Linked DNA regions of Homo sapiens. The protein of the gene in region 4 interacts with the protein of the main gene of each other region in a pairwise test. Each region holds a gene or a part of one and is shown on either strand. Other genes may lie near its edges. The genes, in order: SLC35E4, TMEM72, POMGNT1 and TMEM237.

What was found.
Region 1: the proteins of TMEM237 (region 4) and SLC35E4 interact in binary tests that used the Homo sapiens proteins (3 or more experiments, as listed by UniProt).
Region 2: the proteins of TMEM237 (region 4) and TMEM72 interact in binary tests that used the Homo sapiens proteins (3 or more experiments, as listed by UniProt).
Region 3: the proteins of TMEM237 (region 4) and POMGNT1 interact in binary tests that used the Homo sapiens proteins (3 or more experiments, as listed by UniProt).

What each region holds. Positions count from the first base shown.
Region 1 is NC_000022.11:30,631,164-30,638,784, reverse strand, and holds the start of SLC35E4 (solute carrier family 35 member E4), read right to left. Parts: upstream 3,005-7,621; 5' UTR 2,335-3,004; coding exon 1,716-2,334; intron 1-1,715. UniProt on the Homo sapiens protein: Putative transporter.
Region 2 is NC_000010.11:44,914,334-44,921,353, forward strand, and holds part of TMEM72 (transmembrane protein 72), read left to right. Parts: intron 1-7,020.
Region 3 is NC_000001.11:46,195,435-46,203,276, forward strand, and holds the start of POMGNT1 (protein O-linked-mannose beta-1,2-N-acetylglucosaminyltransferase 1), read right to left. Parts: upstream 3,001-7,842; 5' UTR 2,902-3,000; exon of another isoform or gene 2,617-2,901; intron 2,438-2,616; 5' UTR 2,388-2,437; coding exon 2,268-2,387; intron 2,116-2,267; exon of another isoform or gene 1,928-2,115; coding exon of another isoform or gene 1,874-1,927; intron 1,651-1,873; coding exon 1,536-1,650; intron 1,416-1,535; coding exon 1,297-1,415; intron 1,056-1,296; exon of another isoform or gene 867-1,055; coding exon of another isoform or gene 768-866; intron 644-767; coding exon 578-643; intron 491-577; coding exon 377-490; intron 1-376. Other genes in the region: TSPAN1 (tetraspanin-1), read left to right, coding at 768-866. UniProt on the Homo sapiens protein: Participates in O-mannosyl glycosylation by catalyzing the addition of N-acetylglucosamine to O-linked mannose on glycoproteins.
Region 4 is NC_000002.12:201,640,493-201,647,806, forward strand, and holds the start of TMEM237 (transmembrane protein 237), read right to left. Parts: upstream 3,012-7,314; 5' UTR 2,909-3,011; coding exon 2,867-2,908; intron 2,179-2,866; exon of another isoform or gene 2,135-2,178; coding exon of another isoform or gene 2,117-2,134; intron 433-2,116; coding exon 401-432; intron 1-400. Other genes in the region: MPP4 (MAGUK p55 subfamily member 4), read right to left, coding at 4,718-4,912, 7,199-7,314. UniProt on the Homo sapiens protein: Component of the transition zone in primary cilia. Required for ciliogenesis.

The DNA.
Region 1 (7,621 bases), on a different chromosome or scaffold from region 4:
GCTGGAGTGCAATAGCGTGATCTCAGCTCACTGCAACCTCCGCCTCCCAGGTTCAAGCGATTCTCTCACCTCAGCCTCCTGAGTAGCTGGGATTACAGGCGCCCACCATCACGCTCAGCTAATTTTTGTATTTTCAGTAGAGACAGGGTTTCCCCATGTTGGCCAGGCTGGTCTCGAACTCCTGACCTCAGGTGATCCACTTGCCTCGGCCTCCCAAAGTGCTGGGATTACAGCTGTGAGCCACTGCGCCTGGCCCAATTTTTTTTTTTTTTTTTTTTTTTTTGAGATGGAGTCTCACTCTGTCGCCTTGGCTGGAGTGCAGTGGGGCGATCTTGGCTCACTGCAACCTCTGCCACCCGGGTTCAAGCTATTCTCCTGCCTCAGCCTCCCGAGTAGCTGGGATTACAGACACCTGCCATGGCGCCCGGTTAATTTTTTTGTATTTTTAGTAGAGATGGGGTTTCACCACCTTGGTTAGTCTGTTCTTGAACTTCTGACCTCATGATCCACCCGCCTCAGCCTCCCAAAGTGCTGGAATTACAGGCATGAGACACCGCGCCCGGCCCCAATTTTTGTATTTTTAATAGATACAGGGTTTCACCATGTTGGCCAGGGTGGTCTCGAACTCCTGGTCTCAAGAGTCCTCCCACCTCAGCCTCCCAAAGTGCTGGGATTACAGGCATGAGATACCATGCCCAGCCTGTCAAATCATGAACTTCTCTGGGTCTTAGTCCCATCATCTGTAAAATGGGGATAAAGTTGGTGGTTGCCATGACAACTCAAGGTCAACACTCAGCACCAAGCCTGTCACACTGTAGCTCCCAGTAAACAACAGCCCTCCCCAGACTTAGACCTGACCCCTGACCTTCCAAATCCCAGCTCATCCCAGACCCTCCTTTTCTCTCCCTGGCCCATGCTTTCTGGCTTTCCTTTGTGTCCAAAGCCTCAGGCCACATCTCTTGGAAGCATGGAGTCTGACTATCTGGGTTTAGATCTTGCCTCTGCTGCTCACTGGCCACGTGGCCCAGGGCAAGCCTCTTCATCTATCAAATGGGAACAATACAGTGAGATAAAAGGCTAGTCAAACACAGATCACTGGCTATCACTAAATACTGGTTTGTAATTCCAGAACTTCAGGAAGCTGAGGGGGGAAGATCGCTGAGGACAGGAGTTCAAGACCTACCTTGGCAACATAGCAAGACTCTGTGTCTATAAAAAAAAAAAATTAGCTGACCAGGTGGGGTGGCTCACGCTTGAAATCCTAGCACCTTGGGAGGTCAGGAGTTCAAGATCAGCCTGGCCAACATGGTAAAATGCTGTCTCTACTAAAAATACAAAAATTAGCTTAGCGTGGTGGTGTGCACCTGTAGTCCCACTTACTTGGGAGGCTGAGGCAGAAGAATCACTTGAACCCAGGATGCGGAGGCTGTATTGAGCTGAGATCTCACCAATGCAGCCTGGGTGACAGAGCCAGACCCTGTCTAAATAAGTAAATAAACAAATAAACACGAGTTGGGCCTCCAGAGCCTGAGTCTGGGGCCTGGAACTCACTGAACTGTTGGCCCTCTCTGAGCCTCAGTTCTGCTTCCTCCACAGCCATGAACCTCAGTTTCCTCATTTGTAAAATGGGACAACAGCCATACCCCTCACAGGGCCATCCAGGCCATGCACCCACCCGGACCCCCACCTTCTCAATTGGCCACCCAGGCACTTACTTTGCTGAACCGACTTGAGTCCGCGGAGGCAGGTGGCTGCGAGCAGGAAGCCACAGCCGGTAGGGGGTGTCCGGAACTCTCCAGCCAGGCTGCAGGCGGCCCCCAGGCAGAGCGGACCCATGGCGGCCAACTGAAGTGGGTGGTGGCGGCGGCCCAGCAGCAGCGCCGACAGGGCCAGGGTGAACAGAGGTGTGGTGGTAGTAACCAGTTGTGCCAGGTCCAGGGGCACAGCCCTTAGGCCCACGTTGCCGCAGGCCATGGACGTGCCAAAGGTGAGACTGAGCAGTAGGACTCGGCAGCGAGTGCCGCCTGGCATGGGGCGCCGTGCCCCCCGGTGGCATGCCAGGGCTGCCACCAGCATGTGCAGGGCCGACAGCAGCAGGGGCCGCCCAAAGCCGTGCACTGTGAAGATCCACTTGTTGAGGCTTGACATGCTGGCTCCCGCCAGCAGCCACACCAGTGCTGCCATGGCCACTCGGGCCCGGCCAGGCTGCCGGAGGGCCTGAGGGCTGCCAGGGGGCCACTCGGGGGGCCCAGCCGCCTGAGCACCACCAGCTGCTGCTCCTACTTCGGCTGAGGTCATCCTGCCATCATGGTGCTCCGGCGGGCAGCGGCACATCCGCACCAGTGAGGCTAGGGCAGGAGGCGGGCTCCCCAGTGACGACCTCTGGGCCACCAGAGAGTTCCGCTTGGGGCCAGGCTAGATCCTGGTTCCTCCGACCCCGTGTCCCGTTTCAGACAGGTGAGGACACTGCTTACTTGTGCCAGGCCTGTGCCAGCGATGTCTAGAAGCTAAGCTGTGTTTCCAGCTCAGACAGGGCAGAGCCAAGGTCGCGGCTGCTAGGATGCCAGGGTCTCCGATGCTCAAGCGTGGGCTCCAGGCACCTCTGCCCCGTGCCAGGTGGTCTCCACTTTCCTCCTCGCCTAGTGCCCACGTTATGCTTTTAGATGAAATCCTCGTTCCTTTTTTCTCTTCAGTCCCCAGGTCATTAGGGTGCGCGCAGATCCAGACCCTGGGAACTCCTGCGTGCTCTGGCCGTGACCAGGCCTGGCAGGGGGGCGATCTGGGCTCCGCGCCTGGCGGTGCCCGGCCCGGGGGGTCGCGGGCTCGCTGCCTCCCACAGCGCCCGGGCAGTGAGCTGACACCACGGCCCGTCCTCCGGCCGGTGCCTGGCGGCGAGCTAGGCGCGGATCCAGCAGGGCCTGCGCTCCAACTCCTGCTCTCTGAGGCTTTGGCTGCGGCTCTGGCTGCGGCTGTGACTCCGGCTGCGGCTCCTGCTGCGACTCACGCCCGGCTCCAGCTCAGGCCCGGCACGGCGGGCGCGGCGGTGCGCTCTTGACTCCGCCTCCGCCTCTGCCTCCCCCGCCGCCGCCCGCTCCCTACACGGAAAATTGGGCTGAGCACCCCAGCCAAGCCCCGCCCCAGGCCAAGCCCCGCCCCCGGACCGGGAGGGCGGTCTTGCCCCGCCCCAACGCCTCCCGCTCACAGCCCCTCCCCCATCGGCCTGGCATTTCCCCCATCAGCCCTCCTCCGCCCGGGGCCTGCGCATCTGCCCAGTAGACCCCCCCACGAGCTGGCGTGGTCAGCCTCTCTTCGCCGCCAGGGGGGACCAAGTCGCTCCCCACCCAGCGCCAAGGCGAGCCCTCCATGGAGATGAACGCGCATTGCTGGAGACACTGGGGTATCCCGCACAGCCGCCCAGGCTATCTTCAAGAAGCAGGGTAGTGAGGAGGGGCCCACAGCCCCCATCCTAGGACCAGTCTTACGCCCACCTGATCTCTGGCCACAATTATCTCGTGGGACCTCAGCATCCAGCAGAGCTGGATTACGGGGTCCCTTAAGGCACCTCCATCGCCCCTCCGTAGCCCCAGCATCCTCCCCAGCCTCCCAGTCCAGGGCGGCGCCCCCTGGGGACCCTCAGAGGGAAGCTGAATCACCAGGCAGGGATACCCACAGCTGCGGAAGTAGGTACCGCCGGCCGGCATCCTTCCCCGGCCAGCAGCCTCTGTCCGGTCCCCTGAGCACTCGAAGCTGACTCATAGCAGAACTTCCTGGGGTCCACCCTGTGCCCCAGCCCCGGCAAGACAGAGCCCTGGGCTGGGAGGCAGAGCGGTTGCCACTGAGCCCTTGTTCCTGTCTGGGTCTCGGTTTTCCCACCAGAACGACAGACGCTCTCTGAGGTCAGGATTGGGTAAACGGCGCGCCCCAGGGCAGAAGAGGTCCATCCAGATTCCAGGCTAGGCCAGGCCCTGGCCCCTCTGAGCTCTGAAGTCCGGGAGCACGAGGACCAAGGCCCAGCCATGTGCCCAGTATCAGATGTGAGCCTCTTTCCTGTTGTCGGTCTTCCTACTAGGCTCCTGCCCAAGAGGACCCAGCTCACCCCTTGCCTGTTGTCTAACCAGCAAATCCTTGATGACAGCAACCTGTCTTGAGACACAAGATCTCAAAGGGGTACCGCTGAACCCAGCCCGCTGCGCCCTCTGGTGGCCAGGCGCTGAATATAGCCCTCAATCCCCATCCCAATCACAGGACGCGGGTTTAAAATCCCCAGCCTCAAAGGAGGCCTGCTGAATCAGAGGCTCTCTGTCACGGGTGGGCCTGGGAATTTACATGGTCACATTTGCCTCTGTAAGTCCGACGCCCGCTGGAGCCTGCAGATCTCTGCTGAATAGCCTAAGCTACAGCGCAGGGGGTGCAGATAGGGAAATTTCCAGGCCAAGGACCAAAAAATGGTGGCATTTAGTGTTTCTCCAGAAAGGGTTGTGGAAAGGAAACTAAGCCAGCCAAAGCGGATGGCCCCTCTCCCGCACCCCCTTGCCATTTCCTGAGGAAGAGAAATCTGGGACCCCTAAGGGTTATAATTATCTTTGATATTTTGTCAGGTTTTTTTGTTTGTTTGTTTTCCAAGACCGAGTTTCGCTCTTGTTGCCCAGGCTGGAGTGCAATGGCACGATCTCAGCTCACTGCAACCTCTGCCTCCCAGGTTCAGGTGGTTCTCCTACCTCAGCCTCCCGAGTAGCTGGGATTACAGGCGTGCGCCACCAAACCCGGCTAATTTTTGTATTTTTAGTAGAGACAGGGTTTCACCATGTTGGTCAGGTTGGTCTCAAACTCTTGACCTCAGGTGATCCACCCACCCTGGCCTCCCAAAGTGCTGAGATTACAGGCGTAAACCACCACGCCCAGCCTGGATTTTGTCAGTTTTCTAGTAAGTCTCCTTTAGTAAAAAACAATAGTCTGGGTACAGTGGCTCATGCCTGTAGTCCCAGCACGTTGGGAGGCTGAGGCATGAGGATCACTTGAGCTCAGGAGTTGGAGACCAGCTTGGGCAACAGGGCAAAGCCTCGTGTCTACAGAAAATACAAAAATAAGCTGGGAGGCTGGCCGAAGAGGTTCACGCCTGTAATCCCAGCACTTTAGGAGGCCGAGGCTGGCGGATCACTTAAGGTCAGGAGTTGGAGACAGCCTGGCCAACATGGTGAAACCCCGTCTCTACTAAAAATACAAAAATTAGCTGGGTGTGGCGGTGGGCGCCTGTAGTCCCAGCTACTCAGGTGGCTGAGGCAGGGGAATCGCTTGAACCCGGGAGGCAGAGCTTGCAGTGAGCCAAAATCACACCACTGCACTCCAGCCTGGAAGAAATCGCACTACTGCACTCCAGCCTGGACGAAAGAGCAAGACTGCATCTCAAAAACAAACAAACAAACAAACAAACATGAGCTTGGCATGGTGGTGTCTGCCTGTAGTCCCAGCTACTCAGGGGATTGGGAGGGAGGATCCCTTGAGCCCAGGAGATGGAGGCTGCAGTGAGCTAAGATTGCACCACTGCACTCCAGCCTGGGTGACAAAGACCCTGCCTCAAAAAAAAATTTTTTTTTTTTTTTGAGAGAGTCTCGCTCTGTCGCCCAGGCTGGAGTGCAGTGGCACGATCTCAGCTCACTACAAGCTCCGCCTCCTGGGTTCATGCTATCCTCCTGCCTCAGCCTCCTGAGTAGCTGGGACTACAGGTTCACGCCACCACGCCCGGCTAATTTTTTGTATTTTTAGTAGAGACAGGGTTTCACCGTGTCAGCCAGGATGGTCTCGATCTCCTGACCTTGTGATCCACCCGCCTTGGCCTCCCAAAGTGCTGGCATTACAGGGGTGAGCCACCGCACCCGACCAAAACTTTTTTAAATTTAATTAAAAAATAATAAGAGAGAAAAAACCAACAACAGTAATATTTTTTTTTTGAGATGGAGTTTCGCTCTTGTCACCCAGGCTGGAGTGCAGTGGCACAATCTCAGCTCACTGCAACCTCTGACACCCCCCGACCCCGGGTTCAAGTGATTCTCCTGCCTCAGCCTCCCAAGTACCTGCCATCATGCCTGGCTAATTTTTGTATTTTTACTAGAGATGGGGTTTCACCATGTTGGCCAGGCTGGTCTCGAACTCCTGACCTCAGGTGATCCACCCACCTTGGCCTCCCAAAGTGCTGGGATTACAGGCATGAGCCACCTTGCTCAGCAACAATAATAATTTATATATACATAAATTTTATTGCCCTCTCCCTCTCCCTCTCCCCACGGTCTCCCTCTCCCTCTCTTTCCACCGTCTCCCTCTGATGCCGAGCCGAAGCTGGACTGTACTGCTGCCATCTCAGCTCACTGCAACCTCTCTGCCTGATTCTCCTGCCTCAGCCTGCCGAGTGCCCGCGATTGCAGGCACGCGCCGCCACGCCTGACTGGTTTTCGTATTTTTTTGGTGGAGACGGGGTTTTGCTGTGTTGGCCGGGCTGGTCTCCAGCTCCTAACCGCGAGTGATCTGCCAGCCTCGGCCTCCCGAGGTGCCGGGATTGCAGACGGAGTCTGGTTCACTCAGTGCTCAATGTTGCCCAGGCTGGAGTGCAGTGGCGTGATCTCGGCTCGCTACAACCTCCACCTCCCAGCTGCCTGCCTTGGCCTCCCAAAGTGCCGGGAGTGCAGCCTCTGCTCAGCCGCCACCCCGTCTGGGAAGTGAGGAGCGTCTCTGCCTGGCCACCCATCGTCTGGGACGTGAGGAGCCCCTCTGCCTGGCTGCCCAGTCTGGAAAGTGAGGAGCGTCTCTGCCCGGCCGCCATCCCATCTAGGAAGTGAGGAGCGCCTCTTCCCAGCCGCCATCCCATCTAGGAAGTGAGGAGCGTCTCTGCCCGGCTGCCCATCGTCTGAGATGTGGGGAGCGCCTCTGCCCTGCCGCCCCGTCTGGGATGTGAGGAGCGCCTCTGCCCGGCCGCAACCCCGTCTGGGAGGTGAGGAGCGTCTCTGCCCGGCCGCCCCGTCTGAGAAGTGAGGAGCCCCTCCGCCCGGCAGCCGCCCCGTCTGAGAAGTGAGGAGCCCCTCCGCCCGGCAGCCACCCCGTCTGTGAAGTGAGGAGCGTCTCCGCCGGCAGCCACCCCGTCCGGGAGGGAGGTGGGGGTCAGCCCCCGCCCGGCCAGCCGCCCCGTCCTGGAGGTGAGGGGCGCCTCTGCCCGGCCACCCCTACTGGGAGGTGAGGAGCCCCTCTGCCCGGCCACCACCCTGTCTGGGAGGTGTGCCCAGCAGCTCATTGAGAACGGGCCATGATGACAATGGCGGTTTTGTGGAATAGAAGAGGGGGAAAGGTAGGGAAAAGATTGAGAAATCGGATGGTTGCCGTGTCTGTGTAGAAAGAAGTAGACATGGGAGACTTTTCATTTTGTTCTGTACTAAGAAAAATTCTTCTGCCTTGGGATCCTGTTGATCTGTGACCTTACCCCCAACCCTGTGCTCTCTGAAACATGTGCTGTGTCCACTCAGGGTTAAATGGATTAAGGGCGGTGCAAGATGTGCTTTGTTAAACAGATGCTTGAAGGCAGCATGCTCGTGTCATCACCACTCCCTAATCTCAAGTACCCAGGGACACAAACACT
Region 2 (7,020 bases), on a different chromosome or scaffold from region 4:
GTCATGTGGTTTCCAGGACATAACAGACCACTCCCGCATTGTTTACACCGGGTTCATTTGCTTCACCTCCCTGGCTCAGGATGTGGGGTTGGGGGGCAGGCGCCCATGGGTCCATGTGCATGCATGCGCCCGTGTGATGTCTAAGTGCCTCAGTTGCTGAGACGCGGCATCCATTGCCGCCCATGGAAGCAGACACAGCTGGGAAATGGCACACAGGCTGTGAGCACTCCACATTCCCCTGTGCGGATGCCGGAGCTCCTGCCTGTCCATCCCTCAAAGCAGGTTCTCCCCGTGTCCACTAGAGACAGGGTAAAGATGTCCTGAGTGTGAGACTCAGGCCCCAGAGGAGGCTCAGCCCTGTGACAGGTTCTCAGCACAGACCAAATGGCAGGAAAGGGGTCCTGGGAAATGGATTTAACTGAGCCTGGAGCACAGCGGTCCAGGGCACTCCTCCCCTGTGAGATGAGAAAGGACCTGTCCCACAGCATTGGTCCCAGTTGCAGGCTAGGAAAGCAGGGTTGGCTTCCCTTTGAACTTCAGCCATCCTCTTACCCTTTAACCTCAGGGGAATCTTGAATAACTCCTTTGCCACTCCCCAGCCCCTGCTGAGGTGGCCAGGAAGAGCATGGGAAGAGCCCCCTTTGTGGGACAGAGGAGGCACCTCTCAGGCCGTCCAGGCTGGGCATGGAGGGAAGGGGAGACATGTCCCTGAGCCCCGCCTTGTAGTGAAAGCCCTCCCCTCAGGCTGTGTCCTCACACACAGATGTGCATGGGCTTCCCCATAAGAGGCTTGCTCAGAAAATGTCTCTGGGCACTTGAGCAAGGCCTCCCAATTTCCCTCAGAGCAAAGAGGCTCCAGCTTGAGGCCCCACTGCCCCATCTCCAGGGCTGAATTTCACTCTTCCAGCCTCTGCCCAGAGCAGAGGTTGCTGAGAATGAACATGATTATTTGAGTATTTACTCAAATAATACTCAAAGCCCAAGCTTTGCACTGTGTATTTTAAATGCAGTATCGCATTTCATCCTCCTGTCATTGGGAGCATCATCATGTTCATCCTCATACCCACTGTACAGGAAGGGAAACCGAGGCCTGATGGAGCGAAGCATCTTGCTCAGGGTCTCACACCAGGAAGCAAGAAGACAAAGTTCCACCTGATGATGGTCTGCTCCTGAGACTCCACTCCTAATCGTTATTTCCTCCACCTGAATCAGGATTAAAAAGCATGTCCCATAGTATTTTGATGACCCCAAGATGCAGGATGCAAAACACACAGAGGAGAGCAGGAGAGGCTTGATCAGAACTTCCCCATCCTCTACCCTCATGCTCCTGCCCTTGGTCAGTTCTGATCAGTCAGGTGGGGTCATGGTGAGGACACACGTACAGTGAAGCACATAGTCAAGGATCACCAAACACTTTCTAAATCTCAAGACACCGATATTCATTGCAGCTATCCATTCTCTATCTCAAGATTGCCACACATGCTTTAACCAGCACCACCGTGACCTTCTCTAGCCAAATCTGCTCCTGGAACCCATCTGGGGACAGACAAATCTGCACACATTTCCAGGGGGAACTATCACAGTAGGGCTTGCCTTGATGGGTCCAGAGGTGCAGGGCTGACTGCATGCATTATGGTCATTGTCTCGCTCCAGCCCCACAAATGCCTGAGACGCTAGAGTGCTGGGCTCAGTCCTATTTTACAAATGAGGAAACTGAAGCTCAGAACATTGAGGTAACCTGGCAGAGGTCACATGGCCAGGAGACAGAGGTCCGGTGTTAGAACTCCACTCTGCCCAAACACAGGGCTGTGTTATGGCAGCTCCAAAGCAAAGGGCATGGCAGAGCCAGCAGGGCATGAGGGGATGGAGGCAAAGCCATTCTGAGTGAACTCTGCTTGTCAGGCTGACGTGCTGTTTCTCACAAATTGAGTGCTTGGAATCAACCTGGAATCACTGAGGGGTTTTATTTTGTTCCAGGTTTTGACCCATTAACCTGTTTCTCTATATAATGGACACAGCCACATTTTCAACTGCTCCCATGCTTCCCACACAGTTAGAGCATTGGCTTATTAATGTACATTAGGAGAAAAGAAGTATTTAAAACCCAGCTGTTCTCATTATATTTTAAAGGATAGAGCAAATGCATAGTTTGACCTTAGCCCTGTTCAAAGCCTTCAGGAAAACAAATGCTTCTGAAGCAGCCATCTTGGGCCCTCCATGCTAATTTTACCCCTCTTACATGTATATCCCCATGACCACCTCCTGCTGTTTAAGAAAGTGTCATGCACTCCAACGCCTCGCAAGAGATTTATCACCCAAGTGAGCCCACATTGTATTTTCAGACCTTCCAAGTGAATGTTGACTGTTTTCCTTTTCTGTTACAATTGGCTCCACAAGTAAATGGAATCTGCCTCCCTCTGTTCCCCCCACCTACCACCAACAGGCAATAGGATTTGGTTCAAACATTTCTTTTTTCACAACTTTGTGCCTGTGCCTTGCTTCTAGATTTATAACAAGAAATCTGAAACTTCAATTAGGTTTCATTTACTTGGCAAACTGTTGCTGAGTCCCCAGTGATCTGCTCCTGAGACTCCACTCCTAATCGCTATTTCCTCCACCTGAATCAGGATTAAAAAGCATGTCCCATAGTATTTTGATGACCCCAAGATGCAGGATGCAGTCCAGTCCTGCATCCCCAGTCCTGAGTCCCCAGTCATGCAGCATAGACACATGGATTAGAATGGCAAGACCTTGCCCTGTGGGAGTGTATGGGCTGGACAGAGAAGCAAACTAGTAAGTGCACATCCGAGCACCAAGCACTGCAGCGTAGTGTTTGGGAGGTGGGTCTGTGTCCTGGGACAATCACTGTATCTACCCTCTGGAGTTGTGAGGGCTCAATGAAACAATGGCTAAAGTAGCAAGCTGCCTGGCACATAGATTCTCACTCAGCATGGGCTAATTTTAGAGGAACGTGCAGGGCATGGAACTGTGTAGCATGAGTTATCAGCTCCTTTTGTTGGAAGGAAGAAGAAGGAAGATCCGAGGAAAGGAGCAAAGCAGTATGTGACTCATGAGGCTGGAAGGAGGAAGGGGCTACACTGTAAAGAGCATTATACTGGGAAACATTTCCCATCACATTCTGAGCTTGGGTTGTGAAGATCAGCCCACAGGAACTTGGCTATTTCTACACCACATATAGTAAGCCAACCAGAGGAAAGATGGCAGCCCTGTTTTATTTTTCATGGGATGACAGCTCTTTCAAGATTGTCCTGGGTTCTATTCAGCCTTCTGAAGAGGGCTGTGAACAAAAAGAAATGTTGTCTGACATAAGTGGCTGACACTGTGAAGAAGGGGCTCAGGAAACCCCCAGGAGACCAGGTAAGGGTCAGATGAAGAAGCCTGATGTGTGTGGAATGGACAGAGAACAATGGGAGCATGGACAATGCTTTCTGGAAACCTGCCATGTGGATGAGTGAGCAGATGCATTCTCCCTGAACACTGAGAAGGAATAGGAAGTGAATACCTCGGTTCTCCCTGACATTGAGACCTAAAAGAAATTTCTCCTGTGGGCCTGTATAAGTTTGTTTTCACACTGCTGATAAAGACATGCCCAAGACTGGGCAATTTACAAAAGAAAGAGGTTTAATTGGACTTAGAGTTCCATGTGGCTGAGGAAGCCTCACAATCATGGTAGAAGGCCAGGAGGAGCAAGTCACATCCTACATGGATGGCAGCAGGCAAGGAGAGACAGCTTGTGTGGGGGAATTCCTCTTTTTAAAACCATCAGATCTCTTGAGATTTATTGACTATCACGAGAACAACACGTGAAAAACTTGCCCCCCTGATTCAATTACCTCCTGCTGGTCCCTCCCACAACAGGTGGGAATTCAAAATGAGATCTGGGTGGGAACACAGCCAAACCATACCAGGGTACTTACAAGGGAGATGCTATTCTACGTGGGAGACACTATCCTCAGTAGTGCCAATGAACCATATGGGTCTGCAGAGTCCTTCCTCATCACCAAAGAGTGGGGTATCAGCACAGATGGCCTCACAGGTGAATTCTACCAACACTTAAGGAAGAAATATCTATTCCACACAAACTCTTCCAGAAATTTGAAAGGAGGCAATACTTCTCAACTCATTCTATAAAATTAGTATTTATGTGGATACCAAAACCAAAGATATTACAAGAAAACTATAGACTAATATTCTTCTCAATATAGATGCAAAAATTCTAAGCAAAGTTTTAACAAATACAAATATATTGAAAGAATGATATATCATAATCAAGTGGAGTTCATCTCAGAAATGCAAGGTTGTTTTAATATTTGAAAAATCAATTAATGTAACTTACCATGTGTTATGGACTAAATGTTTGTGTCCCCCCAGCCAAATTCATATGTGGAAATCCTAACACCCAACATGATTGTATTAGGAGGTAGGGCCTTCTCTGAATGGAAATAATGCCCTTATAAAAGAGACCTGAGAGAGCTCCCTAGGCCCTTCTATCATACAATGTGCGGTAACAGTGAGAAGACAGTTTTCTATAAGGAAGGGGTCCCTCAGATACCAAATCTGCCAGCATCTTGATCTTGCATTTCCCAGCCTCCAGCACTGTAGGAAATAAATTTCTGTTGTCTATAAGGTACCCAGTATATGGGATTTGGTTATAGCAGCCGAAATGGACTAAGACATCATATTTAAAAACTAAAAAAGAAAAACCATATTATCATCTAAATAGACACAAAGTTTTAAACGAAATCCAACATTCTTTTATGATTAAAATAAAACTATCATCAGCAAACTAGTAACAGAAGGAAACTCCCTCAACCTTAAGAGGTCATTACAGAAAACATACATCTACTTAAATGTAAAAGACCAGGTGCTTCCTCCTAAGATTAGGAACAAGGCAAGGGTGTCCACTCTACCACGTCCAGTCAGCATTGTACTGGAGGTTCTAGCCAGTGCAAGAAACAGAAACAAAATGCATACAGATTGTCCAGGAAAAAGAAAAATTTTATTCACAGATGACGTTATCATCTGTAGAAAATCTAATAGAATCTACCCCAAAAGCTACTTGAGCTAATGGAGGGAATGGCAACATTGCAGAAGACAAGCTTAATATATAATAATCAACTGTATTTCCATACATTAGCAACAAACAATTAGAAAATGAAATCTTTAAAAATACAAATTATAATAGCATTGAAAATCCGAAATATTTAGGGATAAATCTGACAAAAGATGTAAAACAAACTACACTAGAAACTAGAAAACATTGCTGAGAGATAACAAAGAAAATCTAAATGAATGGAGATGCATCTTGTTGATGGGTCAGAAGGCTCAATATCGTTAAGACATCAGTTCTCCCCCAAATTGCTATACAGTTTCAATAGGAGCTCAATCTGAAGTCTCTTCCAACTGAATGTCCAGAAATATCTGCCATGAAATCCTTCCCTTTTCCCACACTGTCTCTGAACCCTGGCTCATGTATATCAGCTGAACTGATCTCCACACGTAGGTAAACCTCCCCACCATGCTTACTGTTTGCCACAACTTCTGAGCTAAGAAGCCTGTGGCTACTACCTTACTGTCCCAGTGAATTCACAGCAACTGTTTCCAGCAACTCCATAGTCTTGGAAATGGTACAAATCTAGCTTTTCACCTCTACCCTGGCGGTGACCACCTCTCCTGGACCATCCACGCCCATTGTCATCAGCCTGGAGCGTCTTTCCCTGAGGTGTCTTTGGACACCCTGAGTCCAGCAGGAGATGAGAATGAAAAGAAGCAATAAATATACGCGGTGGGTTCGGAGGCTGCCCTCAGCAACAGTGAGTACAAAATTCTCATCCAATGCCCAGGGCATCCAGTGCCAAGGTTAGTGTGGCCTCTGATGACTGTGAAGCGTCCCATGTTACCACCAAGGGCATCACAATAAATGCAAGACATATGTCACAATTCAACCCATGGAGTCAGAACGGATAAGCAACAGTGGATCATGAGGTCAGCCCTATGGCAAAAGCAGCAGCAGCCTGAGGCCAGGGGAATATCCCCTCAGTAGGCAGCCCCGCAGATGGCCCCAGCCTCAGGAACATGCTGGCCTGAGCCCCGTGGGGACCCTAGCAGGGTTATGGAGGGCTAATACAAGAGATGTGGAGATAGATGGGAGTTTGGGTCACTTATATCCCAACTGGGCTTTGAGAAGGGACCTCAAAGTAAATTAGTGAACAACAAGCAACACTGGTGCACAGGGAACAGCTTTTTGGCCACAAAAAAACCCACAAGTGTGTTAATGGGAGCAAAGGATGAGAATAAACCCTCTCCTTCCACTGGAGAATACTGATGGGAACCGCCTGCCTCTTATAATAGCTTTCCTAGCCATCGTCTGCATTTGTGCAGCACTCTCATTTACTTAGACTGAGCAGTGGTCGGCACCATTTTGCATGTTTTTATTTTCCCCATTTTCCAGAATAAGATGCAGACCAAAGAGTTAATCACTTTCCTGAGGATGCAGGACTCAGCTTTTCTGATGCAGGCCCCATATTCTTTCTGCTCTGGTGCAGCCCCCTCCTAGCTTTCGTCAACCCATGCTGAGACCAGAGCTCCAGGATGAGAAGGATACTCACACAGTGGCTGCCCTGCCCAGGGCTGTACCACAGGCTCTTGGCCCAGGATCTCTGATCTCTGCTAAGCCTGAACTACAACAAACAGCTCAGGAAAGCAACACAGAAGCAAGCCCTGGACCCTGAGAGAAGAAAGTTCTTGTACCAAGGTTGGATCTGGCCCACACAGGAGGGACAGAGACTGGAGGGAAGGAGCTAACAAGATGAGAGAGGCCAGGCTTGTCCATGAATGGCTCCATCAAGGTGCGATGCAAGGCACCTCCTGGGATCATGCAGGGAGTGAGACAGAGGCGTGGGGTGAGCTGTGCTGGAGTGGGCATAAGGTACCTCTGTTGGGCTGGGGTGAGAGTAGCTGGGGAGCCTGAGGTGGGATAATAGGGAGGGATGGAAGGAG
Region 3 (7,842 bases), on a different chromosome or scaffold from region 4:
AAATGTCCCCTCCCCTCTATCATTCATTATCCCCTGCTTTATTTTCTTCTTTATACAAGTTATCATTTACTAGCATTATCCACATTTACTTGGCTGTTTCTGTTGACCTCCCACTGCTGGAATATAAGCTCCATGAGGGTGGGGACTCTGTCTTGTTTCCCATTGTATCTTCAGCACCCAGAGAAGTACCTGGCATACAGCTGTTGCTCAATAACTATTTGCTGAATTAATACAAATGTTAAGGCTGAGATTGGAACCTGAGTAACCTTCCTTCAGAGAATCTTCCCACTATGTTATATGAGGGGCAGAGAAGCCGGGGCTAGAAGCAGGGTTGGAGCTAGGGAGTAGGGGTCAGGGTCAGGACAGAATAACTGACCTTGACAGTGCAGATGAGCACTCGGCCGGGCGCTACCATGTTGAGGAATAGCACCATGGCCTCATCCTCATGAGGTGAGTACGTGTCAAACACACGTTTTGCCATCACGTGGCCCTGGCAGGGGATATACTTCTGGTGAGTTGGTGTCATCAGCAAGAGCCCAGCTCCAGCCCTCTGGGTCACCCACCCCTAGAAACTCACCGTGGCCTGGTTGAGGACAATGACATGGATGCCCCGGCCCTGCTCCCGGGCCTCATCCTCCAGCACCTACACAGTGGCAGAGACAAAGTCCAGCTTTTCACTCTGGCATTCAAGGTGTCTCTGTCTTAGGGGTACTTAAAACACCAGCTGCTTGAAACATCACCTCCTGCCTATGTTTCTGTTCACACAGTTCTTTTCCAACTCAGCTCGAAGGCCACCTCTTCCAGAAAGCCTCTATAGCACTCCCATCAGAAGAGATCACGTCTTTCTACAACCCTCCCCTCCATGACTTTCATGGCTCTTAGAGCCTCTGCTGTCTCTGCTTCATCCTGGAAGTATCACAATCCTCCACCACACTGAACCCCTCAAGGTAGGGCCAGGTCTGATTACTTTCAGGTCCCCAGTGCCCAGCACAAGGCTGAGGCCAAAGAAAGGACCAGGGGATGGTTATAAAATAAATCAATGAATTGACTGCCTACTATTATGAATGATTACTTTTGAGATCCCACTACATACAAGACACTTCACAAACTTTTCATTGAATCCTGACAAGTAGAAATCATTAGTCCCAGTCTATAGATAAGGAATCGAGGACTCCAAAGTCACACAGCTAGAAACTGGCAGAGTTGCAGTTCCCACTTAGGCAGTAGACCCTGCTGCCAGTGGACCATGCCCTGAGCAGAATAGAGTGACTGTACACCAGACCCTGGCCCACTGACCGTGGTGCCATCCACTGCCACATATACTTTGCTGCGACTTGAATACACCTCTACGTCCAGGACCCGCCGGGGACCACTGCCTCTGCGCCGTGGGGGCTCCAGGCGGCCTAGGGCCTCATCTGTGGGGTACAACAGGTCATGGAGATAGTCTCCTCAGCAGAGTCTCACCGCTTAGGGTCTGCCTGCCACTCCAGCTGTGAGATCCAAGGCCCCCTACCCCATCCTTAGCCTAGCCCTACCATAGTCTTGCTCTGGCTCTGGGTCTTCATTGGCTTCACTGATGGCTCGCCGAGTGTCCAGGATCAACTTGATATTGACAATGACAGTCACCAGCAGGAAAAGCACGGCCCCTGTCTGAGGGGAGGGGTAGGGATGATTAAGAGGAGCACCTCCTTCAGATCCTAGAGGGTCTTTCTGAAAGGAGGGCCCTGGCTGCAGTGAAGACATCCAGAGAAACTGGGTCCTGTCCCTTCCTCTGTCTGCCTAGCTCTACTCCCCTGACCAGGGCCTAGTTTCACAGCCACTTTCCCCAGGGAACCTCCCCTGACACTTCCCCCTCCATTAGGGCCCTCCCTACCCAGTGCTCCTGTATTCTTCTATTTGAGACCTTGATTTCCTTGGTCCCCTCCATTGTTGGTTTCTAGAGATGGAGCCAGGCCCAGGGACCCAAGCGGGGGATCAGACCTGGGTCCTGGCCCTAACTGCCTCACAGGGGTGTGCCTCTCTGCAAAGCCAGCCTGATCAGACTTCAGGCTTCCGTCAGAAGCTTAGAAGTTGTACTTGGGTTCCGATTCCAGAACTTTGGGTTCAAATCATTACCTATAGGGACATGACACATAGAGGTCTCCCCTCTAGGAACCTGCTGCCCCTTTCCCACTGGGGCTGGCCAACAGGGGTCCCAGTGCCTGATTTAGGTGGGGAGGAAGCTGGGAGGGAGCGCTCGGTGGGGAGGGTTTGGGACATCTCTATACCTGACAGAATCTCCGCAGGGCCCGCTGGTTTGTCAGTTTATACTTCCAGGTAAGGTACCAGCTCCGCTTCTTCCGAGCCCCAAAGGGCTTGATGAGGGGGCTGGGCTTCCAGTCGTCCATACCGGATTGGCGGGTCACCAATGTCCTGGCCAGCCCATGACTTCAGGAATCTGAAGGGACCAGAGGGCCACATGGGGTAAGATGCTCCTCCCAAAGTCTGATGCCTTCTGGGGAGATGAGGGAGGACCTCCCAGCAACTCTTCCCTGCAAGCACCCATACTGTGTGACATGGGGAAAGTGGCTCAACTTCTCTGGGCTGGCAGGAAACCCTTCAGTGGGGTTGGATCACCTGGAAATTCCCTGAGACTGGAGTAACTCTCTGAATCAAGGCTGTCCAAGGGTGGAGGCCAAATAATCGGCTCAAAGTTCGTTAGCCCCTACAAGGACCAAGTTCCAGGCCTTCCCAAGCCTGTGGTGAGCAAAGAGCGACCTCTCCTGCCCCAGTCTTCAACCCTCGTCCCATCCTATCTGCCCCAGCTTCTCTCCTCCTCCCAGGGCCCGGAGCCGCCCGAGGGCTCAGGAGACCTGCACCGGCAGCGCTACCCGTTCCGGACACCCACGCGGAGGCACTCACGGCTTAGGGGCCCCGGGCCCCGCTCGGGCCCCGCTAGGGCCCTCACTGCTCGGCCCGGCTCGCCGCGGCCTCCGCCTCCTCCATGCCGCTTGCGGCCCCGCCCCGGCCTGGCCCGCCCCCCCGCTTCCGCCGCCGCCGCCGCCGCCGCTGCCGCGGGGTGAGAGGGCGACGGGCGGTGCTTAGGGCGGCGGCGGCGGCGGCGGCGGTGGCGGCAGCGGCGTCGGGGTGTAAGCAGCCAGCGAGTAAGGCGAATGCTCAGACCGTGCTAGGCAGCTTCGCAGCCCGGCTGGCTGGTGGGGCTGCCTGCACGAGAGCAGCCCGCTCCCCAGCACCGCCGATGGCAAGCCCGACTCCAGTCAGAGGCCTAGCACCTTGGACCAGATCACAGGGCACGCCAGGGTCAGAGGGGCTGCAACCCTTGGACACAGGGCACACACCACCCGCCCCATACCCGTCCTGGGCAAGGCCGTTACCTAGTCCTGGGGCATGCACAGCTATTGGAGGCCAAGGGAGATTAAAATCCAGGTTCTGTCACTGTTCTAAGCACCTTACTGATGATGTTTAATTCCACAACAACCCCATGAGGTAGGCGCTATTATCATTATTATTGTTTTTTTTTTAATTGAGACGGAGTCTCGCTCTGTCGCCCAGGCTGGAGTGCAGTGGCACCATCTCGGCTCGCTGCAACCTCCGCCTTCTGGGTTCAAGCGATTCTCCTGCCTCAGCCTCCTGAGTAGCTGGGACTACGGTCGTGCGCCACCACACCCAGCTAATTTTTATATTTTTAGTAGAGACGGGGTTTCACCATGTTGGCCAGGCTGGTCTTGAACTTCTGACCTCAAGTGATCCGCCCGCCTTGGCCTCCCAAAGTGCTGGGATTATGGGCAGTGAGCCACCGTGCTGGCTATAGGCGCTATTACTATCCCTGTCGCAGATAAAGAAATAAGACCTAATATCACAAAGCTAGGAGAGGTGGAATTGAAACTCAGCCTAGCTCCAGATTCTGCTCTTAACCACTGCACTCTGCTGGCAACAATACATAAGAATTGCCAGGTTTAAATAACATCATACATAGAAAGCAGTTAGCTTAACACAATGGTTCTCAAACTTTAGCTTGCGTCAGAATCACCTGGATGACTTCTTAAAACAGAGGTGCTGGGCCCCATCCCTAGAGTTTTAGATTCAGTGGTCTGGGGCAGGGTGGGATTTTGCATTCCTGAGAAGTTTCTAGGTGATGTTGATGCTTGTTTGAAGTGGATAGCCATAGAACAGTTTTAGGCAGGGGAGCAATATAATCCAATTTCTGTTTTAAGAGAACCTTTACTTTTTTTGTGGAGAATGGGTTGGAAGCAGACAGAGGAAGCCAGAAGACCAGTTAGATTTTTTTGAGCTTTCTGTATTCCATCTGCTTCCTGAATGGTGGGGTAATATCCCCCAAAATGAAATGTTAACAGTACTTGTCTTAGGAGTTAAAGAAATACATGATTTTTCCTAGTAAGTATGTATAAGAATGGAAGAAAACCCAACACATTTTATTACATTTGAAAAGATGTCCCGGCTGGGCACCATGACTCACGTAATCCCAGCAGGTTGGGAGGCCGAGGTGGGGTGGTCAGTTGAGGTCAGGAGTTTGAGACCAGCCTGCCCAACGCGGTGAAACCCCGTCTCTACTAAAAATACAAAAGTTAGCTGGGCGTGGTGACAGGCGCCTATAATCGTAGCTACTCAGGAGGCTGAAGCAGGAGAATCGCTTGAACCTGGGAGACAGAAGTTGCAGTTGAGATTGCACCACTGCACTCCAGCCTGAGTGACAGAGCAAGACTCCGTCTCAAAAAATAAAAAAATAAAAATAAATAATTAAAAGATGTCCCTCAGGGTTCCTTCCTGACCCTCTTTTCTCCTCAAACTGACTCTTCATGGATGATCTCATTCTCTCATGACCTCTGTTACCAATCTAGATGCCCAAACTGACATTGGCAGTTCTAACCTCTTTCCTGAGCTCCAGGCTGCCTGATGTCCAGCAGGACATCTTCACAGGCCCCTCTAACGCAACAGCACAACTTCTGGAATCATTTCCTTTCACTCCTAGATTTCCTGTGGGTTCCCCTCCTCAGTGAACTGCACCAGGCCAAACAGCTGGGAGTCACCCTTGACTCCTTGTCTGTCTCCAGTGACCAGTCCAGGTATGTCTTGCTCACCATTGTATTCTCTACACCACACACAAAGGCTGGCACATAGTAAGCTCTCCGTAACATTTGTTGAAATCATTCATTTGTATTTTTTAACAAATTTTTATTGAATGCCACTATAAATGAATGTAACCAGTCACCTAGTCCTGTCAGTCTTACCTCCTAAAGAGCCTTCCATTCTAGTCTAATTCTTCTTTGACCTCACAATCAGCCCCAGTGCAGGCCATTTCAGTTTCTTGCTTTCCAGCCAGTCTCCTTGACTCTAGATTTTTACTCCTCCTATCCTTTTCTCCTTGCAAAATCCAGAGTGATTTTCTTTAAGGCAAATGTTGCCGGGTTCGGTGGCTCATGCCTGTAATCCCGGCACTTTGGGAGGCCAAGGCGGGTGGATCACCTGAGGCGGATGGATCCGCCTGGCCAACATGGTGAAACCCCGTCTCTACTAAAAATACAAGAATTAGCTGGGTGTTGTGGCAGGTGCCTGTAATTCCAGTTACTCAGGAGGCTGAGGCAGGAGAATGGCTTGAACCTGGGAGGCAGAAGTTGCAATGAGCCAAGATGGTGCCACTGCACTCCAGCCTGGGCAACAGAGCCGGACTCTGTCTCAAAAAAAAAAGACAAATGTTTTGTCTATCTCTAACTTAAAACCCTTCCATGGATCAAAAAGTACCAAGGAAAATGATGTTACTTAAAATTATAAAGGTAGGCCAGGCATGGTGGCTCATGCCTGTAATCCCAGCACTTTGGGAGGCTAAGGTGGGAGGATTGCTTGAGGCCAGGAGTTCGAGACCAGCCTGGGCAACATAGCGAGACTCTATCTAAATTTTAAAAAAAGTTAATTACAAAGGTAACCTTAGATGAACTAAAAAGAGTGATAGAAATATGTAGTGCCAGGCCGGGCGCAGTGGCTCACACCTGTAATCCCAGCACTTTGGGAGGCTGAGGCAGGCAGATCACGAGGTCAAGAGTTCGAGACCAGCCTGACCAACATGGTGAAACCCCCGTCTCTACTAAAAATACAAAAATTAGTCGGGCATGGTGGCACGTGCCTGTAATCCCAGCTACTCAGGAGGCTGAGGCAGGAGAATCGCTTGAACCCAGGAGGGCAGGTTGCAGTGAGTCAAGATCGTGCCACTGCACTCCAGCCTGGGCGACAGAGTGAGACTCCATCTCAAAAAAAAAAAAAAAAAGAAAAAAGAAAGAAAAGAAAAGAAATATATATTGCCAATGGGGGAAAGGAACTACAGAGTGTGAGTTAAACCCATATATCCATATTTATCTGAATAGGACAATAAACAGCAGATGAATGTTTAAAATTGAGAAGTAGTGTGGCTGGGCATGGTGGCATACTCCTGTAGTCACAGCTGCTTGGGAGGCAGGAGGATTGCTTGAGCCCAGGAGTTTGAGTCCAGCCTGGGCAATGTAGGAAGACCCTGTCTCTAAAAAAGAAAAAATAGTGGTAGGATTTACAATAAGAGGATAGTTACTCCTACCCTACCCTTTCACACCTCTAGGCCCACTCCCAATTGGCAACCACTTTTAGTTAACTCTAAACAATAACGTTATGGGTATGAACACCAAAAGAAAAAAAAAAACTAAAAGTTATTTTTTGCCAATTGGGAGTGGGCCTAGAGGTGTGAAAGGGTAGGGTAGGGGTAACTATCTTCTCATTGTAAATCCTTCTGCAACCATGGGCTGGAATTACTTGAATTAAAAGCCTAAACAAACCAGAGTTTTCATGGCTGTTCATTACCTGTTAAATAAAACCCAAACATCTCAGAACCATTTTCTGTAACCTTGTTACTCAAAGTGTGGTCCCTTATTACTTGAAGTGTGGACCAGCAGCATGGCCATCACCTGGGAGCTTATTAGAAATGCAGGATCTTGGCTGGGCGCAGTGGCTCACACCTGTAATCCCAGCACTTTGGGAGGCCAAGGCAGGCGGATCACTTGAAGTCAGGAGTTCAAGACCAGCCTGGCCAACATGGTGAAACCCTGTCTCTACTAAAAATACAAAAATATTAGCTGGGCATGGTGGCGCATGCCTGTAATCCCAGCTACTCAGGAGGCAGAGGCAGGAGAATTGCTTGAACCCAGGGAGGCAGAGGTTTGTAGTGAGCCAAGATCGCGCCACCACGCTACATCCTGGGCGACAGAGCGAGACTCTGTCTCAAAAAAAAAAAAAAAAAAAAAAAAAAAATGCAGGATCTCAAGCCCCACCCCAGATTTACAAAATCAGAACCTACATTTTAACAAGATCCGCAGATAATTCATACGCACAGTCAAGCTTAAGGAGCATCTTGCTTGTAAGCCCAACGTGGACCTCTTCAGCTTCAGTACTGGTTGCCCTTTTCTACTCCGTTAGCCTGAATTCTAGCCCCTGGGGGGGGGGGGTGGTGTGTGTGTGTGTGTGTGTGTGTGTGTGTGTGTGTGTCTAGCTAAAATCCAGTCATCGTTTTATACCCAATTCCTCTGCTCCAGGAAGACTTCCAAGCCCTCTGCAGCTCTCTGTTACCGCTGTTCCTTAAACTCCCACATCTCTGACTGAAGCTGCTTAGACTTCATTCTGCAAACATGTATTGGGCGCCTGCTGTGTGCCTGGCTGGATTCAGTGCCAGGGTGGGGCGAAGGCGCTGAGGTCTCCGAGTGCTCTTTCAGGTCCAACTCCAGAATCGCCCAGCCCCACGCAATCCAGGGCCAGAGGTTGTGTGCGCAGCACTCGAATACATCCACAGACGGTGCTGCGCGGCTT
Region 4 (7,314 bases):
TACATATACATATTCCCTACTGTCTATTAATAAAATGGATTAAGCAGATTAAGAACTCTTACTTGTGACTGATTAAAATCAGCTTAAACTCTGAGGAAACTATTCTCACAAAAGACCAGAATTCTGATTTAAAAAAAAAAAGACACCAAAACAGTTAGAAAGGGAATGGATCCATTATCCTACCATGTTGATATTCAGGCTTTTAAATATAACATTCCATTATAACTGTTATTCTTAAAATTCAAGGATTTTTCACCTTTAAAATTTCAGAAAATCCCTAAATTTTTCAGAAGAGTTTCCTGAATCATTGTAATTTTGCAATGATACTAGTCAATTTTTCCACTGTCTTCATTTTCCATTTTTAAAGCTCAATAATGAAATTACTGTAAATTATTTTTACCTTGGCACAGGTGGAAGAGCTCGTGGAGGACGCTGTGGCGGAAAAAATAAATTTGCTTGTAAGTAAAAGCCTAGAGCATCTTTACTTCAAATACCATCACGCTATTTTTTTTTTTTTGAGATGGTGTATTGCTGTGTGGCCCAGGCTGGAGTGCAACGGCACGATCTTGGCTCACTGCAGCTTCCATCTCCTGGGTTCAAGCAATTCCCCTGCCTCAGCCTCCCAAGTAGCTGGGATTACAGGCACCCACCACCATGCCCGGCTAATTTTTGTATTTTTAGTAGAGACGGGGTTTCACCATGTTGGCCAGGCTGGTCTTGAACTCCTGACCTCAGGAAATCCGCCCACCTTGGCCTCTGAAAGTGGTGGGATTATAGGAGTGAGCCACTACGCCCGGCCAAAGCAATTCTTTCAAAAGTCTGTTGTTCAGACATGACAGAAAAATATAATGGATCAGACTAGGATCTTCAAATCTCTTGATAATCTTGTTCATCAGTGAAACCTGGGAGGTACTGATGAGAAACATGGGCAATTTAAAATTTGTTCTCCCATCCTAAATTTCATATAAAATTCCTTCCTTCCTACATTCCTTTCCATCTCTAGGCCAGGCCCTTTTCTAAGCATTAGGAATACACTAATGAACACAATGGAGAGAACTCTGCTCTTATGAAACTTACATTCTAGTGGTTGAGTATTAGAAACAATGTTAAAAATATATATATGATAATATATACTATATATTATATGCAGCATGTACGATAAAATATATTTATATGCTATATTTAAGACATATCTTGTATACATATCGTGTGTGCATATATATATATATACACAAGATACACACACACAAAACGTAATGAATGAAGGAGACTGAGTGCTACTTTTGTTAGGGAAAGTTTCTCTGAGTTTGAGCTGAGACCTGAATGAGAAAGCAGCAACCGGAACAAATGCAAATATTTTTAGGTTAAATTGGGCTTGGAATGTTTCAGGTAAAAGGACAGCAAGGCTGCCGCACAATTACCAAGGAGAGGTAGGCAGGAGCCAGATTAGTTAGGGCCTTGCAGACCAAGGGAAGTTTGGATTTTGTTTTAATTCAATGGGAAACAAATGGAGGTTTTAAACCACATACTAACACAATTTTTAAAAAGGCCAGTTGCATACACTGGGAAGAATGCGTTTTAGGGCAGAAAGAAAGGTGGGGGGAACCCTTCTAAACCCTCATTTACATGAATAAGAAAAGTGTTTGTAGTTCAGACAGCATTACAGTTGAGAAGTATTTTAGAATCATATAGTAACAGAAATGCCTAGAAGCCAATTTAATGTTCCAAGTATCTCATGCTGCTTGCATAAGACATTTATTCAAAAGGGTTAAATTTTAGACACTCTTGTAGTTTGTCCCATTTAGCAATCCATTCGTTCGAACAGTAGATTAATGCAAGTACTACAAGATTAGGACGAGGCAAGCTGCCGTAATACCATCCAGTAGTCAAAATTACAATTGGAGAAGAATGACAGTCACAGGAACGCGCTATTGTTCTAAAGATGCTACGAAGCGCGCGCGATCGATCCCAGGGCTCTGTTCACGTAACTGATTTCAAAAGTCCCGCAAAAATGACGTTCCACCCACCCAGAGACCCAACCTCTAATCCTCAAAAGTAGGACGGCTCAACTGAAGACAAAAATCCTAACAATTAAAAGTAGCTAAGGCTCGCTTACCACAGGATTCTTCCCCATTCTGCGTTTAGCCGGCCTCGGCGGCCGCCGGCCCCCAAGCACCTGGCGCCCCACCCCTCCCGGCTCGGTCGCGCGCGCAGGCGCAATGCGTCATCGGGCCGCGCCGCCTGGCTAGTACCCCGCGCGCAGCGCCCTGCGGGGATGTTGCGGTGAGAGGCGTGCAGGGACCTGGATTGGCCAGTCCAGACTAGCCCTGCCAAAAAGGGGGCCTCGGAGTTGGGGGTAATGTGCCCAGGAGCAGAAATCTGGCGACCGTGGCGCTGCAATCACAGCTTTCCCGTGGTTTCCTAAGTGGTGGCGGTGATTTGTTTGCGGGAAGCGGGGCGTGACGGAAGACCTTAATTAAAGGACTCCGCAGGCGAACAGATCTCTTCTGGGCAGCTACAGACCTCTCCTCGGAGGAGTCTAGGAGAGGCCTGGCTGGAAGCCCCGGCACCCGCCGGGCCCCGGGCCTCAGATGAGTGAGGCGTCGTCGTGGCAACGCGGGCTCAGGTCCCCGCAAACTTCATGCCAGGCCTCTCTCTCCCACTCCGGGAGTTCGGTCCCGGCCTCGCCTGCGTCTCCGTCCCATTCCTGTGAACACTGGAGGGGCGGATGCGCGCACCCCACGAGCAAGGCCCTCCCTTAGTGATTCCCAGCTCGTTGGCGCCCCCCCACACACACCCACCCCCACTGCCAAGTGTAGCTGTTTACCCGCCACCTCTCGAGGCCGACGCGCCCCTCGCCGCTCACCAGGTGGCCCTCCTCCAGCCGAGCCCCCGAGTCAGTCCTCATGGTGCTCTCCCCGCGGGGCTGCCCCGGCGCAACCGCCGGCGGCCCGAGCCCAGCTCCCCGCGACGCAGCGGCCTCCGGGACCTGTGGGACGCCGGGGCTTCGTGGCGCCTGGCGAGGCAGCCGCCCCCTGAGCCAGGTCCCCGCCCGCCTCTGTCCTGCCAGGCGCTGCTGGGTTTGGGAGGAATGCGTTTACTCTCCAGGACCAACGAGTCTGTGCAGGCCTGGGTGTGTGGATGTGTATTAATATAGGCAATTCTCACATTTTCTCCGATTGCTTACCCTTCATCCCACAACTGTGTAAATCAAATTTGGAAAAACTTTTTCTCAACCTTAAAATCAAATCCAACCTCACATAAATATCACTACAAACTACCTGATTTGCATCGTTTGGTTTGGTTGGGTTTGTTTTTTTTTAAAGATAACTTTCACTTTAAGTAACAGAGAACTACAAATATTTTGAATCATGCATTCTGTTTTACAGTTAAGAAAGAAATGGGAAAGATGGAAGAATGGTGTGGATATGGAGAAGAGAATGATGCAGAAGATGAACAGATACAGGGACAGGGAAAGCGCCTGGAAATCTCAAATCTGGGGAAAGAAAGAGAAACAGCACTTTGTAATGGCATCCTAATCTTGTTACCAAACAAACGGGGCTTGTTGCCCTATACGCACAGAAGCCAATATTATGGCGCTGATTTTTTGAGAAAAGTTTTCATTGTGAGTCAGCTAACAAGGAGACAGGAGTATAGCTCTAATCTGTCTCCCTGTGTTGGCTTTAAGACAGTATTTTTATTAGAAAACGTTTAGGGGGTGGATTCTGGGATTAGTAGGTGATTGGTGGAAGGAAAGAAGCCATCTGGAAAATCCTCTGGCGTTCGCAGTTACCTCTTCATGTCCCTTCATGGGTCGCATGTGCAAATTTTGGAGGGAGTCAGTGTGAAACATGGGGAAAGATTCAAGCTGTGACGCCAGCAAGCTCATTTTGTACAGACTCCAGGTAGCCATCCGTGTTAGTACTAACCACTTTCAGCCAGTTTGCTTTGTTTTGTTTTGTTTTGTTTTTTAATCTCACAATGGAAGAAGTTTAGGCGTTTTATTTAGCAAGTTGTTTTTTATCTGCCGTCCTGCATGCTCAAGAATTTCTGTTAGTCCCTGGTTTCTTTAACTCTGAGACACGGTTTCACTCTTGTGATTTTCTATATATAGGTCTCTGGGATTAATCCATTGCCTTTTTCTAATTTAGGCCTGCATGTAGATATTGGCTGTTAAGGAAAATTAGTGTTTGTCACACCTCTCATGAGAATAATTTTTTCCTTGTAGGCCGATTTGTAAATAGTGAAGGCAGTGCAGTTTCTTGTAGGTTTTGATTTTAGATGTGAAATGTGTACATTAAACCTTTCTTGCTGAGTTAGTCAAGTAAGCACTTTTTGTAAAAGATGTTTTCATAAAACACGTTTCATAGAGTACAGTTTCTAAAGTTAACTATTGCTTATTTTATTTAGGAAAGCTCTTTATTTAAATCTTAAAAAGATCATGTGAAATCTGCGAAAGGTTCTCATACTCAGTGACTTAACATTATTCATATTTCTACCACAGCTGCATATGAGGTAAAGGAAAAAAAATTAAGTTAAAATAGGTAACCACATAACCATACAATAAAAATTTTTTTCAAATAAGATTAATTAATAAATTGCTGCACTTTTAAAGTTGTACACATTAAAATGGGTCAAATACTGTTGTTTTAGATTGCAACTATGGATCGCTGTATCAAGGGTACAGTGTTAAAACTCCAGCATTAAACAAGAAGTCTCATTGAGACTCAGTATCTGAGGAAATCCATGTTGCTGGTACCCACTGAGGCTCCTCCTGAGCCTTCTGTATGGCAGACAACAACTGGGCACATGCATCGTGCAAGCTGTCATTCACAATCACATGATCAAAAAATTGGCCAAACTGAGTTTCCATTCTTTGGGCTAAATTTTCCATCTCTTGTAGGTCTTCATCCTTTAGGAGAAATAGAAAAATATGGATAGTACAGACTTAATTGGACAAATGGAAAAAATACAGTTTGTTATGCTGTCACATTCAGTTGTGAAACTATGTATAAAAACAGTAAGGTCCGAAAATTTTGCACAGATGATTTTCAATAAAGTTTCAAAAATATTTTTTCAAAATTCTACAAAACCAGCAAACTAGAAAATAGTAATTTTTTTGCCCTCTGTTATTGAAATAATGTGGCTAAGTATAGATAAAATAATTTTTTTTTTTTTTAGACAGGGTCCCACTCTGTCCCAGGCTGGCATGCAGTAGGATCATCTCAGCTCACTGCAGCCTCTGCCTCCCAGGCTCAAGTGATCCTCCCACCTAGGCCTCCCAAGTAGCTGGGACTATAGGCACATGCCATCATGCCCAGCTAATTTTTGTAGAGAAAATATAATTATTATAACAGGTATAAACATATCCTTCTAAATTAATGTGAAGCATAAGCAAAGCTGGGAAAAGTATATCACTATCCACAGTATGTCATCCTTTATTTCTTAGAAATGTATTACTGAGATAAAGAAATTTTAATTTGGAAGTTTTTTTAAATAATAAAAGACTGAAGTTTTTATTTTAAAAAATGAGGTCCAATAAATGTCTTCTAAACTACAAAACTTATGTTTTAATCTTTAGTCTTAATGTCTCGTCATGTTTTGCAAAATTTAGTCATAGTTTGCAGACAGATTACTCCCCTCAACTTCCCGTGTGAACTTATCTTACTCTTACCTAAACACTTGAAACTTTTTAACCATATACAACATAAAACCAAAGAAAATGTACCAGTTTAAATAAAATTTAAACATAAATTTCAAGTGAACATTAATCTGATAGGGATAACATTAAAGATACAAAATGGCCACTTTCAACATGAGGATGGTATAAGCCAGTTATATTATGTTTCTACTATTGTGAAATGTTCATTTAATGAAGGTAATTTGGCATTCACTTGGCACTAATGCATTAAATTCATTGCTGTTATTTTCTTATTAGTTCATGAAAATAGTACAACTTGTCACCAATACAATCTGAAACACAAATGCAGGCACCAAAATCTTGTGGCTTTACAAAGTGACCATACATATGATCCAGAAACAATTTTGTTAATTTGTTTAGACTGCCATAAAAATGAGAACAATTTTAAATGCCCATAAGACTCAGCAAATACATTCATGGACTCCACTGTTCACAAGGCAAACTGGAAAATCAGACCTCCATAGTCATTGCAAAAAATATGAAAATAAAAATAATAAGAGAAAGGATAATTTAAAGATACCTGTGCTTGCTTTGGTAGCACACAGACTAAAACTGAAACAATGCAGAGATTAGCATGGCCCTTGTACAAGCATGACATACAAATATTTAGTGAATCATTCATATTTTTAGTTTCAATTTTGCCAGGTAAATAAATTCTAGAGCTCTGTTTCACACAATGTGAATATACTTAACACTAAATACTAACACTGAACTGTACACTTAAAACGGTTAATATGGTGAGTTTTATGTATTTTTACCACACATATACACACACACACAAGTGGCTGTAATATCTTGATGTGGGTGATGGTTATCTGGGTGCATACACACATAAAAATTCATTAAACTGTACACTCTGTACACCTTACTGAATGTATGTTATGACACAATATTTAAAGCATATTTAATGTAAAATATATGTACGCAACCGGAAAAAAAATCACCTGTTCTAGGATGAGATCACTGATTAATTTCACTTGGCTTGCCCCCTCTATTATTACCATCATCATTTTACAGATGAGATATACTCACTGAGCATTTTTAAAGTAAGCTTTTAAGTAAAAGATATTCTGTTTAAAATACAAACACCAGGCTCATACATGCCCAATTTCTGTTTGGCTTTGCAAACTACGGCTCAAGGATTTTTTTTTAAGCTAGACCCAAAAAAATAAGAAAGTAAAAAATAAGGGTAGCATCATAACATTTATTAAACTTTATATCTGTAAGTGATGTCCATCCAAAAGGATAAATCGTAAGGGCATTATCCATTAGAAACAAAAATTACATTCTCTAACACAGATCCTGTAGAAACAATACAGTTTTAATTTTTTTTTTAAATAAAACCATAGTAAACCATTTTATTGAGGGCCTTTTGGAGAGGGGGTCAAAAAGGAGGAGGAGGACAATGAGATCAGAGATCCTTGGCCCAGCCCAACCCAGATCTCTCCCACGCAGAAGCCACTGAAAGCAATACAGTAGTTTTTGACTTGCTCTTACCTTGAACTTCATGTCCACATAGTAGTCAGTAATAACCTTGGCATTTTTCCGAGATTGTTTCATACACCTCATATTCGATGGCTTTATAAATATGACATAGGGCTTCAGTTCATGGG